Regions from separate parts of the Homo sapiens genome. Here region 2 is linked to region 1. The links come from fine-mapping of genetic effects on gene expression. A gene starts in region 1. The other region holds a variant in brackets. All regions are shown on one strand. Distances are between the middles of the regions. Region 1 holds the start of GADD45G (growth arrest and DNA damage inducible gamma). Region 2 has its middle 88 kb from the start of MIR4290HG.

Evidence for each region. PIP is the estimated chance that this variant, and not a neighbour inherited with it, causes the effect.
Region 2: its variant is fine-mapped to the expression of GADD45G in cerebellum (GTEx, PIP above 0.99).

What each region holds. Positions count from the first base shown.
Region 1 is chr9:89,601,897-89,607,264 of GRCh38, reverse strand. It overlaps GADD45G (growth arrest and DNA damage inducible gamma), which reads right to left and starts at 2,253. Exons shown (of 4, transcript NM_006705.4): 1 at 2,091-2,253; 2 at 1,732-1,833; 3 at 1,385-1,598; 4 at 710-1,296. The coding sequence starts at 2,143. The coding sequence ends at 1,186. It overlaps LOC105376139 (a long non-coding RNA gene), which reads left to right and starts at 2,249. Exons shown (of 2, transcript XR_930105.3): 1 at 2,249-4,525. RefSeq lists a silencer at 2,884-2,933 and an enhancer at 2,544-3,442.
Region 2 is chr9:90,126,366-90,131,733 of GRCh38, reverse strand. No RefSeq gene overlaps it. Among named protein-coding and RNA genes, the nearest start is that of MIR4290HG, 88 kb to the right of the region's middle. The variant C/T (reference allele first, on the strand shown) is at 2,151.

The DNA.
Region 1 (5,368 bases):
TCGTAACTCTGATGTGGGCAGAGAACACTGAAAATAGTAGATAGCAGATGCCAGGCCCCCTCAGAATTGCTCATGCCTATTTATATAGATGCTGCCTTCCAATTTTTTCTCAGATCTTCCAAGTTCTATCACAGCCATGACAAAGTAATGACTCATACTTAAATGCAGTCATCAATGTCATATTTGGTATTAGTACCTTTGTAGCATTGCTTTGTGTCAGAGCATTTAAGAGGAAAAAGTCCCCAAGAGCAGGAGCAGTCTGCCACCATCCTCAGGGACCACAAAGGGCAGGGCCTGCAGAAGGCAATGCTCATTGTGCAGGAAAGCCTGAGGCCTCCTGCAAGCTGTTCAGATAAGCAGCTGTAGGAGGGAGGGGGAGGAGGGCCGAGGAGGGGGAGGGGAGGCACAGGTCACTGTTATCGCCTTGGAAGGCAAGACTTCAGCTGCTGCACTGTCTTATCTCAAGTATGCTCCTGTTTTGCAAGTTTAAAATCTTCCTAAAAGGAGAAAAGTAGGAGCCAGGCTCAAGTTCTACCCTAGCACTGGGCAGCATGCCCTCCCTCTGCCAGAGGGGAGGAGCCTGTCATTCTTGCCCGACAGGAAGACGGAACAGGTGCCATCAGTTCCACGGAGTTCCAGCAATCCTCTGAAACCCTGCACGCCACCTCCCCCGACACAAAGATCCCCTACCCTCAATAAAGAGCATAAGTTTGTTTCAAAAAGTTTATTGTAAAATTCAAAGCTTCAACAGCAGCATCCTTTAGAAAACGAAGCATTGCCCGGATCCGTTTTGAAAAAGCAGCGCAGTCGGCTAAGTCCTTCACGCTCCTGCAACTGTACCAAGTCCAGGGCGCCGCTCCTTCCTGCCGAGCGCAGGCTGCTGAGTCACGCCTGCCCGGCCAGTCTGTCCTTCCTGGCCCTGAGGCCAACGTCCTAGCCTAGGCCTTCCTGGGCGAGCAGCCGCTCCAGACACTTGCAGAGTCCTCAGCTCGGACCAGCCTGGCCCTGCCGCCACCGGGCCCCTCCTCGGGAGGCCGCGCCTCCTCGCTCTCCAGGCGCCCCCCCCGCCTGCCAGTCTCCACGCCGCACTCGGGCACCCTCGGAGGGCCCCTCCACAGAGCCAGCCGCGCTCTAGGCGCCCCGGGGCGTCACCACGTCGATCAGACCAAGGTCCCCGCCGGGCTGTCACTCGGGGAGGGTGATGCTGGGCACCCAGTCGTTAACGCTGCGGCTCTCCTCGCAAAACAGGCTGAGCTTCTCCAAGGCGGGATCCTTCCAGGCGTCCTCGTTGGGGTTCTGCGGAGAGAGAGCAGGGTCAGCCTGGCTGGCCGCGGGCCGAGGCGGGAACGACACTGGGGCGGGGACAGGACGGGACTGTACTCACCGAAATGAGGATGCAGTGCAGGTCGCCCGGCGCACCCGCCTCCTCGCCGGCGCCCACGATAGCCGCCAGCCGCTGCACATCGCCCACGCGCACTATGTCGATGTCGTTCTCGCAGCAGAAAGCCTGGATCAGCGTAAAATGGATCTGCAGCGCGATGTCGCCCTCGTCCTCCTCACCCGCAGCCAGCACACAGAAGGTCACATTGTCGGGGTCCCTGCGAGGGCAAGGCGGGGACCTAGGTCAGAACCGGCTAGCCGAGTTCTCCCGCCGCCACCCCTCCCATCCGCCAGTCTCCTCGCCATTCACCCCCGCCCCTGTCTCCCAGCCTGGGCCGCGTCTACACTTACACGTTCAAGACTTTGGCTGACTCGTAGACGCCGGCAGTGAGGCAGCCCTGACGCTGCGCCGACAGCAGCAACTCATGCAGCGCTTTCCCGGCACCCTGCATCCTGCGGAGGAGCCAGCGCAGTGAGCGGGAGCCGGCCGGAGGGCGCGGCGGAGACCCCAGCCCCGGCCACCGGCACACACCCTTGGCTCCCCAACTCCAACCACACTCCAATCCCGGCTCAGCGCCTGCACCCCGGCTCTCCAACCGGGATCTGGCGCCCGGACCCCCGCGCTCCCCTCCTACCCCGCGGATTCCCACCCTGGAAAACCCTGACGGTCGCCGACCGACCAGCGGCTTTCTCAGCGCCCTGAAACCCACCTGGCTGTGCTTTCCGGAACTGTGTCCTGGCCGCGGACTTCTTCCAGAGTCATAGTGCGATCAACCAGCAGCTAGTTATCCACAAGCGGAGAGCGCGGAGGGGACGCGGGCGAACACACTGACAGCCAGAGCTCAGCACGGCGCGCCCACCACCAGCGAGTGCGCCCCTACTACGCTGCGCGCCCTTATATAGGCTGGTGGGTGCGGCGCCGCCAGCTGGCGCGAGGCTGCGCGCCTATTGGCCGGCACCCGCTTTCTGATGTAAATGAGGCGGCGAGCCAGCGGCTCGTGCCAGAAGGCCACGTGGGGAGGGGTGCGGGGGATGACAATGCCTCAAATCTGCCGCTTTTGTTGGGGTGTTACCAGGCAGACTGGAGCCTGCAGATTTCATCTCGCCTGGCTTTTTTTTTTTTTTGAAGTCCTTAAAAGGAAAAAGTAAAAAAAAAAAAAAAAGAAAAAACCCAACCCACAAAAACCTTGTTTGCTTATATGATGCTGCAATTTGCGAAAAGCACCTTTATAGAAGCAAAGGGATTTTTTTTTGCATTTTGTATTGCTACCTTTCTATTTGTTTCTTTTCTTTAATTTGAAGTCTATGAGACTGTTGCATTGGAGCCAGAAATTAAGGTAAAAACAGGTAGCGCCAGTTAGAGGCTTGCAAAAGGCAGTGGGCACAGCCCCCTGCAGCTGACCACTAGCGTCCCGAGCGCGCTGGTGATGCCTGCCAGGCATACTCAATGTGTACATTGAGCCGTCTCTGGAAGATCCCACCCCACCTCCCCGCCCTTGGCCGAGCGCGGCGGGGCGCGGGAGACGGGGGCGGGCGGGGACGAGCAGATTGCGGCCGGCGCACGCCGCTCGTTTGCATTTCTATGGAGGGCGCACAATAGCAGAGGTCTGGCGTGTGGCGGTTTGCTGTAGGGACAATCGAGGCTTTCTCTTCATAGCAACACTGTCCACCTGCCGCCGGGTGGGGTGGGCAGGACCCCGCCGCGCGTGGGGGTCGCCGGGCTGCCTGGCGCGTGGGGTCGAGGCTGAGTGCCACTCCGTGGTCCCTGAGTGCACGCCCCCAGTACTGGCCCTGCTACAAGTAATTCCCTTCCATCCGTTCCTCGCACGGGTGCCGAACAGCCGCGCGAGTTGGGAAGGACGGAGAGCTGCTGTGCAGTCTTCGCGGCTGGACGCCCTGTGGCCGGGACCCCGCGGCTGCAGCCCCTGGAGCTTAGGTAATGCAGCTCGGAATCTTTCCCGGGGCGCCATCTGCAGGCAGGTTAAAAAGATCCTGAACCCCTTTTGTCCTCCCCTCCCCCCAACACACACACCCTTGCATTGGCCTGGCGCGGGGGAAGGGCGGTGGAGAGGGACGGCCACGGAGCTGCCCGGCCGGGCCCAGTGAGCCCTGTCCAAGCTGCGCATAAATAGAACCCGAGTAAGGGCTGCAAAACGCATTCAGGTGGGACTGCAGTTACCCTGGGGAGTAGAGGGCAAAAGGAAATTCCCATCCAGTACTGATGGAGTAAGAGCCCCTACGTCTTATACCATGTTGAAATATCTTAATTACTTAAATGCGCATATGTAAAAAGCCTTTTTTCCGGCAATGGAATAAGTCTGGAAGAGATCTTGGGAGAGTTTAATAGGCTAGAGGTTGCTGCCGTTTGACCATACACGCTGGCACTTTCAGAGGATTCACCCACTGAGCACCTTCTGTGCTACGTGAAAAGGCGCGCTGGGGGACACCTCATTGCTTCCTTTTTTTGGGTGAAGCCTTGGAGACTGGCCAGGACAGTGGCGGGCCGGGTGGATTGGATGGAAACCCGGGCCCTGCCGCAAGACTGGGGCGATAATGGGAAAGTAAACAACGCCGTGGCTTTGTTCCTTTCATTCAGGCTTTCTTCAGGTGGGTGGTGAATGTACAAGGTACTTCTGAATTTGTTATGGGGAAGTTTCCATTCTGCGCTTGCAGGCAGGCACTTCTGCCAAGGTGAGAAGCTGGCGTCTTGCGCCCCCCAGCGGCTTCCTGGCAGAGGAGAGCTGCAAAAGCCCGGCCCTTCCTGGATTCTAAGAATGAAGAGCTTGCTCTCCTAGCATTTCTGAACTCCAGAGGTGTCTCCTAAGGACGGGGGGAGAGGGGAGGGGGAAGCGGAGCCAGGCGGCATTATGCCCCGTTTGTTCGCTAGTTTCTTTTCTTTCTTGATGTATAAAATGATGATATGCCTTGATTGGATAAAATATGTTAATTTTAAGTGATTGGAATATAGGTATTACTCTTTTAAAACTATTAAACTTTTCTTTTCTTTTCTTTTCTTTTTTGAGACGGAGTCTCGCTCGGTTGCCCAGGCTGGAGTGCGGTGGCACAATCTCGGCTCACTGCAACCTCCGCCTCCCGGGTTCAAGCGATCCTTCTGCTTCAGCCTCCCGAGTAGCTGGGACTACAGGTGCGCCACCACGCCGGGCTAATTTTTGTATTTTTAGTAGAAACAGAGTTTCACCATGTTGGCCAGGCTGGTCTCAAACTCCTGACCTCGTGATCCACCCACCTCGGCCTCCCAAAGTGCTGGGATTACAGGCATGAGCAACCGCACCCGGCCTACTATTAAACATTTCTTAAAATGTATTAGTCCCAGGTCCCCAGGACATGCTGGAAATAAGATTTACTTAACATGCTAGCACCCACCTCTCCAATTTATGACGCTAAAAATCTGCCTACATGCCAGGCCAGAGAAAACAAAGGCTAGGCCTGAAGCCTCAGCCCCTCCTCCGAGAGGAAGGCCACTAATGAACACTCCCGGCTTCGAGTTGGGGGTGGGTGCATTTCCAGTCCCTCCTGAGCTAGCCTGGACCAGAAGAGATGATTGACGACCCCTGGGGCTGTTCTACTCTGCTCACATTTTTAAAGTATTCAATTTCAGGAAACTGCCTTTTTGACATATGATACAGCCTCACTTTGCTTTGTTATGTCAGTCCCAATGGCCCCAAAGCCCCCATCTCAATTGGGAAGAACAATTTTGTCTGCAGGCAAAGGTGGCCTTCCAGCAGACCCACCACCACCCTTCAGTTCAGACACATGCTGAAGCTTCTGGGCCTGGGATGCCCCTGTGTTGAGGAGTGGGCAATGCCCACTAGAAGTTTGAGGATCCAGAATATCCCACTACACGGCTTTGTGGCCACAGCTCTCCCAAATTGCATGCAGCAAGGGACTTGGCCTGCTCTGTGCTTCAGGTCACAGGTGGCTGAGATGTTGTCCTGAGCTTCCTGTGACTGCACCCCTAAACCTTCCC
Region 2 (5,368 bases), 520 kb before region 1:
CATGACGTCTGATGACCGTATTTCAGAATAGAGTAGGTAAAGCTCTTAATTGCGATAAAGGTGACCCCCAAGGTTTAGATTTGTGGTGGGGACTGAGGTGAACACAGACCAAAGATGCAATTAGTCTCAGAAGTCTTATTTTGAGAAGGTGAAAGTCTAAGTTTGGGGCAGCGAGGTCTCCTCACTGGGATGGCCCTCCTCTCCTCCTCTAGGCAGACCAGGGAGGCAGGATGGAGCAGGAGGGCTGCTGCGGACACTTGCATCCTGCAGAGAAGAGTTAGTGGCTCTCGAGAGCCACCACCCTGGAACGAGGTGATTTTGATATCTCACCTACATTGTACAACGTGACAGCCACTCACCACATTTGTCTTTTTACTTTTTTTTTCCTTTTCTTTTTTTTGAGACACGGTCTAGCTCTGTCATCCAGGCAGGAGTGAAGTGACACAATCTCGGCTCACTGCAGCCTTGACCTCCCAGACTCAAGAAATCCTCCCACCTCAGCCTCCTGGGTAACTGGGACTATAGGTACATGCCACCACAGTCGGCTAATTTTGTTCATTTTTGTAGAGACAGGGTCTCACTATGCTGCCCAAGCTGGGCTTGAACTTCTGGATTCAAGCAATCTTTCCGCCTCGGCCTCCCAAAACACTGGGATTGCAGGCATAAACCACCTCACATTTAAAATAATTTCAATCCTCTGTCTCACTAGCCTCATTTTGAGCACTCACTAGTGGCACACGGTGCTAGTGGTTACCACGCTGGGCAGTGCAGAAGGGACATTTCCATCACCCCACAAAGTTACACTGGATAGCACTGCTGTAAATCTATGGGCTTCTTTATCATTCCAGGGATGTTCAGAAGTCACCTAGCTGTCCTCATTTCTCTTTTCTAATTTAAAATTGCATATGTACACTGTGGAATACTATACAGCCATAAAAAGGATGAGTTCATGTCCTTTGTAGGGACATGGATGAAGCTGGAAACCATCCTTCTCAGCAAAGTAACACAGGAACAGAAAACCAAATACCACATGTTCTCACGCATAAGTGGGAGTTGAACAATGAGAACACATGGAAACAGGGAGGGGAACATCACACACCAGGGCCTGTCGGGGGTTGGGGGTGCTAGAGGAGGGATAGCATTAGGAGAAATACCTAATGTAGATGACTGGTTGATGGGTGCAGCAAACCACCATGGCACGTGTATACCTATGTAACAAACCTGCACGTTCTGCACATGTACCCCAGAACTTAAAGTATAATAATAATAATAATAATAAAACTACTTTGCACTCATTGATTTGTTTTTCATCCCCCCTCGCTTTTCCAAGGTTGGCATGCATGCTCATGCTACTTATTTCTGACCTCTCAATCCTGGGTGCTAATGTGTCAGTTAGGCCAGGCTGCCTCCCTTCCCTCTCCTCCTTCATATGTTATCTTCATGTTGGGTTTCTCCTTCCCCGTTGTGCATGGTGTCTCCTGTGTAAATTATGCTCAGGACTGTTCTAAAAGGCCATGAAAGCAGTTCTAAAGTGAACATTTTTCACGTCCTGATGCCTGTCTCCTGATAGCTTCTCCTTCCTGTCCAAATATTAAAGTAGTTATCTGCATTCATTTCAGCTTCCTCCCAATCTGTCCTCCAGCTCTGCAGTTTGATTGAAATTCTTCTTCCAGAATTGGACAGAAACCTCAACAAGGGCAGAACTTTCCCCAGCCCTCCTGCTCCTTTCCTCCTCTGGTGACTAGGCACACACGCAGCCTCCATGGATCTCTGTTTCGTGGGTTCTCCTCCATTCTTTCTGCCTCCTTTCTTGACCTGCTGCCTCTTTTGGTCTTCTTATTGCATGGTCCCCAAAGCCTCTTTCCCTCATTTCCTGAATATTCTCTAATGGAATCCTGCCAAATCCCTGCCTTTCCCTGGATTTCACTCCTGAGCACCCAGCCAGAACTTTCCTGTTGGTTTAATCATCTGGATGTGCCAGAGTGCCACCAGCTCATATACCCTCCTCTCCATGAATCTACCTTGCATTGAATGGGCCACTCCGCAGCAATGCCAGCCTGTTTTCTCTCAGCAAACATGCCCTCTGCTCTTCTGTTTCCAGAGCCGAGCCATCTGTCCTTCAGATATGGAAGCCAGAAGATCACTTCCAT[C/T]GGCACAATGTCCACTTTACTGCTGACCATAAGACGAGTGGTCTCTGTGTTTGCTAATCTGTGTTATCAAGCTGTTCATGCATAAGGACCTCCATGATGCTAGATTCCATCCATTTGCACACAGTTTACCACTCCATTACTAGTTATCACTGCAGAAAGAACTTGGTCCAGGTTCTATTCCATCTGGAGCATAATTTTGAAAGACCTTCATATTCCCAGACAATCAGTCCTGAGGAATGAACAAATACATGCCCTCTATGGCCTGAGATGGCCACTAATAAGGGTCAACCCCACATGGCTGGCGCCTAGCTACAAAAGAAGGTCACACTAATCAAGGCCAGGTAGTGGTCAGACAGGAGGAGCCCAGCCCTTCTTGGGGAAGGACATGCAGACCTCTGGAATTAGGTCAGAGTGAGAGAACTAGATTGTGGGTTGTTATACAACCACAAATAAAGAGGAACAATTCCCAACATGTCATAAATAGCAACTGAAAACAAATATGTCAACTTCGATTTCCTGGGAAATACTGTCCTTTTTATCTGCTGTTTATTGTGTGCTCCAAAACGCTCGCCTGAAGACATTTTTAAAGGGATTTTTTTTAGAGTACTCTAAACAATGTAAAACTGAATACATTCTATATTTTCAACCCCTATGCCAATCTTCAATTGGAAAAAGCTTTCAGGTTAATCAGCAGGAATGTTCCCAATTCAACAGGCGATTCAGTGACTGTTTATATGGGTTGCTTTTTATAGCACACGGCTTACTATGTACATGGGCAGTGGGAACAGTAGTCCATACCAGGGACAGAGCATCCTGTCGCTGGCACTGAGGAGCCTCCTCCAGGAGAGGAGAAGGGCTGCTTTCCCACCTATCTCTTCATGCCTTGGGGCAGGATGTGGGATTTGAGTTGCTTCTCCATTTATGGGGACAGGTCACACCAAACTTTGTGCACCCTCTTGCCCTGCCCTGTTTGTGATTGAGGCACTGACCGGAATCATGTCCTTCATCACACCCAAACCCTTGGCACTGGGGACCTAAGAGACCCTCTGAGCCCCCTCCTTTCATGTGTGCTGGGGGGTGGGGAGGCTGCTAAACTCATTCAGAATAGAGAGGCTGAAAACCTCTCAGAATGGCACTGTGAGATCAAGCATTTAATCCTACCTCCTTCGCCCACATAGAAATCATAGGTAACACAAAAAATAAGGTAAAAACAGGCACACATAGTTTCATGGATCAGAAATGGGTCAGAAACATAGAGGGAAGCTTGAGGCCTGAGACAGCAAGCTGCAGCCTCATAGCCTTCAGAAGTGGAAAGAGACAGAGGTGTGATCTCTTACACTCCTGAGAGACAACCACACTGAAAGCACGCTGTTTGTGTGGAGGATGAGAACTAGGTGTACTGCATAAGGCTGCTGAAGCTAGCGCTGGTGACACAGGCCATACCCGGGGAGCGGAGGGCACAGGCTGCTCAGCAGACACATGCATAGTGCCAGGACCTGGCCAAGCCACTGCTACCTCGAGAACTTGATCTCAGATATACTGAGTGTCACTCCAGGACAGGAAGCTCAGGCTGTCCATACAGGAACTGTGGCCTTTATGAAGCCATAGGGATAAGGTGATGAGAGCAATAATGAAGCTTCTAAAACATCTGGGGTGATTACAGAGAAAAAACTAAAATTTCTTCTTCAAGATGCATTTGCAAAATAAAATTCTGACCACACAGCAGAAACCAACACTAACCAGGCAGCAAATACAGCAGAGTATTCACTCAAGACTAGCAAAGTAGCCCAACACAGCTGTATATTACAGCTGTAATATAATTTTTTCATATCTTCTGAAAGACAAAAGAGGGATATAGCTGCATTGAAAAATATTATGAAGGAAAGCACAGGGAACATGTGTACCTAAAAAGTAATCAATTAGAAATGTTAGAAATGGCAAATATAGTCATTGAAATTTAAAAAACTCTTGAAAGACAGTATAAACATTATCTATCATTTTTCTCTTTAAAAGAAAGAATATTCAGGCCAGGTGTGGTGGCTCACTCCTGTAATCCCAGCACTTTGGGAGGCCGAGGTGGGTGGATCACGAGGTCAGGAGATCGAGACCATCCTGGCTAACATGGTGAAACCCCATCTCTACTAAAAATTCAAAATAATTAGCTGGGCATGGTGGTGGGTGCCTGTAGTCCCAGGTACTCAGAAGGCTGATGCAGGAGAATGGCATGAATCTGGGAGGCGGAGCTTATAGTGAGCCAAGATCGCACCACTGCACTCCAGCCTGGGCAACAGAGCGAGACTCCATCTGAGGGAAAGAAAGAAAGAAAGAAAGAAAGAAAGAAAGAAAGAAAGAAAGAAAGAAAGAAAGAGAGAGAGAGAGAGAAAGGAAGGGAGGGAGGGAGGGAGGGAAGGGAGGGAATATTCAGTAAATAAGAAGATAAACTAAATAATATCTGCCTACACAGCACAGAAAGAGAAAACAGTTGAAGATATAAACTCATGTTTGAAAAACTCACTGAGAATTTTTCAGACTGGAGGAAGAAATGAATAACAAGGTAAAGAAAAATTAGCCTAGTCATATTGGGGTAAAGCAAAAGGCTATTAAAGAAAAAAAAGTTTTTAAAACTACCAGAGAAAAAAGACCCACAAAGGACTGGCAATTAGCAGATTTGTCATTAGTGGCAATAGATACCAGAAGACAATAAAATCATTTCAGTCTTAAAATCACCACTTCCAATCTAGAATTCTGTATGTTGAATAGAAAGCATTAACCAGAGAAAAATCTGTTGAACAGGAGAAGGGAAAAATGCATCAGGATTAGAGAAGAGAAACTGAGAATTAAAATACATAAATTCAAGAGAATCTAATCTTGGAAAGGGAGAGAAAAAGCAAGGAGGGAAAATAGGCGAAACTGGAGAGTGCCTCTCATTCTTTTCATCACTATAGAGATGGTCCCCAACAGCATATAGCGTCTCATGAAGCTTTATTACATATTCACGCTCTTTTTGACCTTGTAACTTGACCCTGCACCTTACTATAAAAGCATTATAATAATAATATGTCCACATGAAAATGAACCAAACAATATTTGGGAATTAAGCAGCACTCTGGAGAAAGGTCTAATTTGGAAGACGTTCATATCGTAGACCCAGAAGGAGATCATAAGGAAATGATATAATGTATGTGGCAAAAGGGGTAATTAATTCTCAGTGCTTGCTC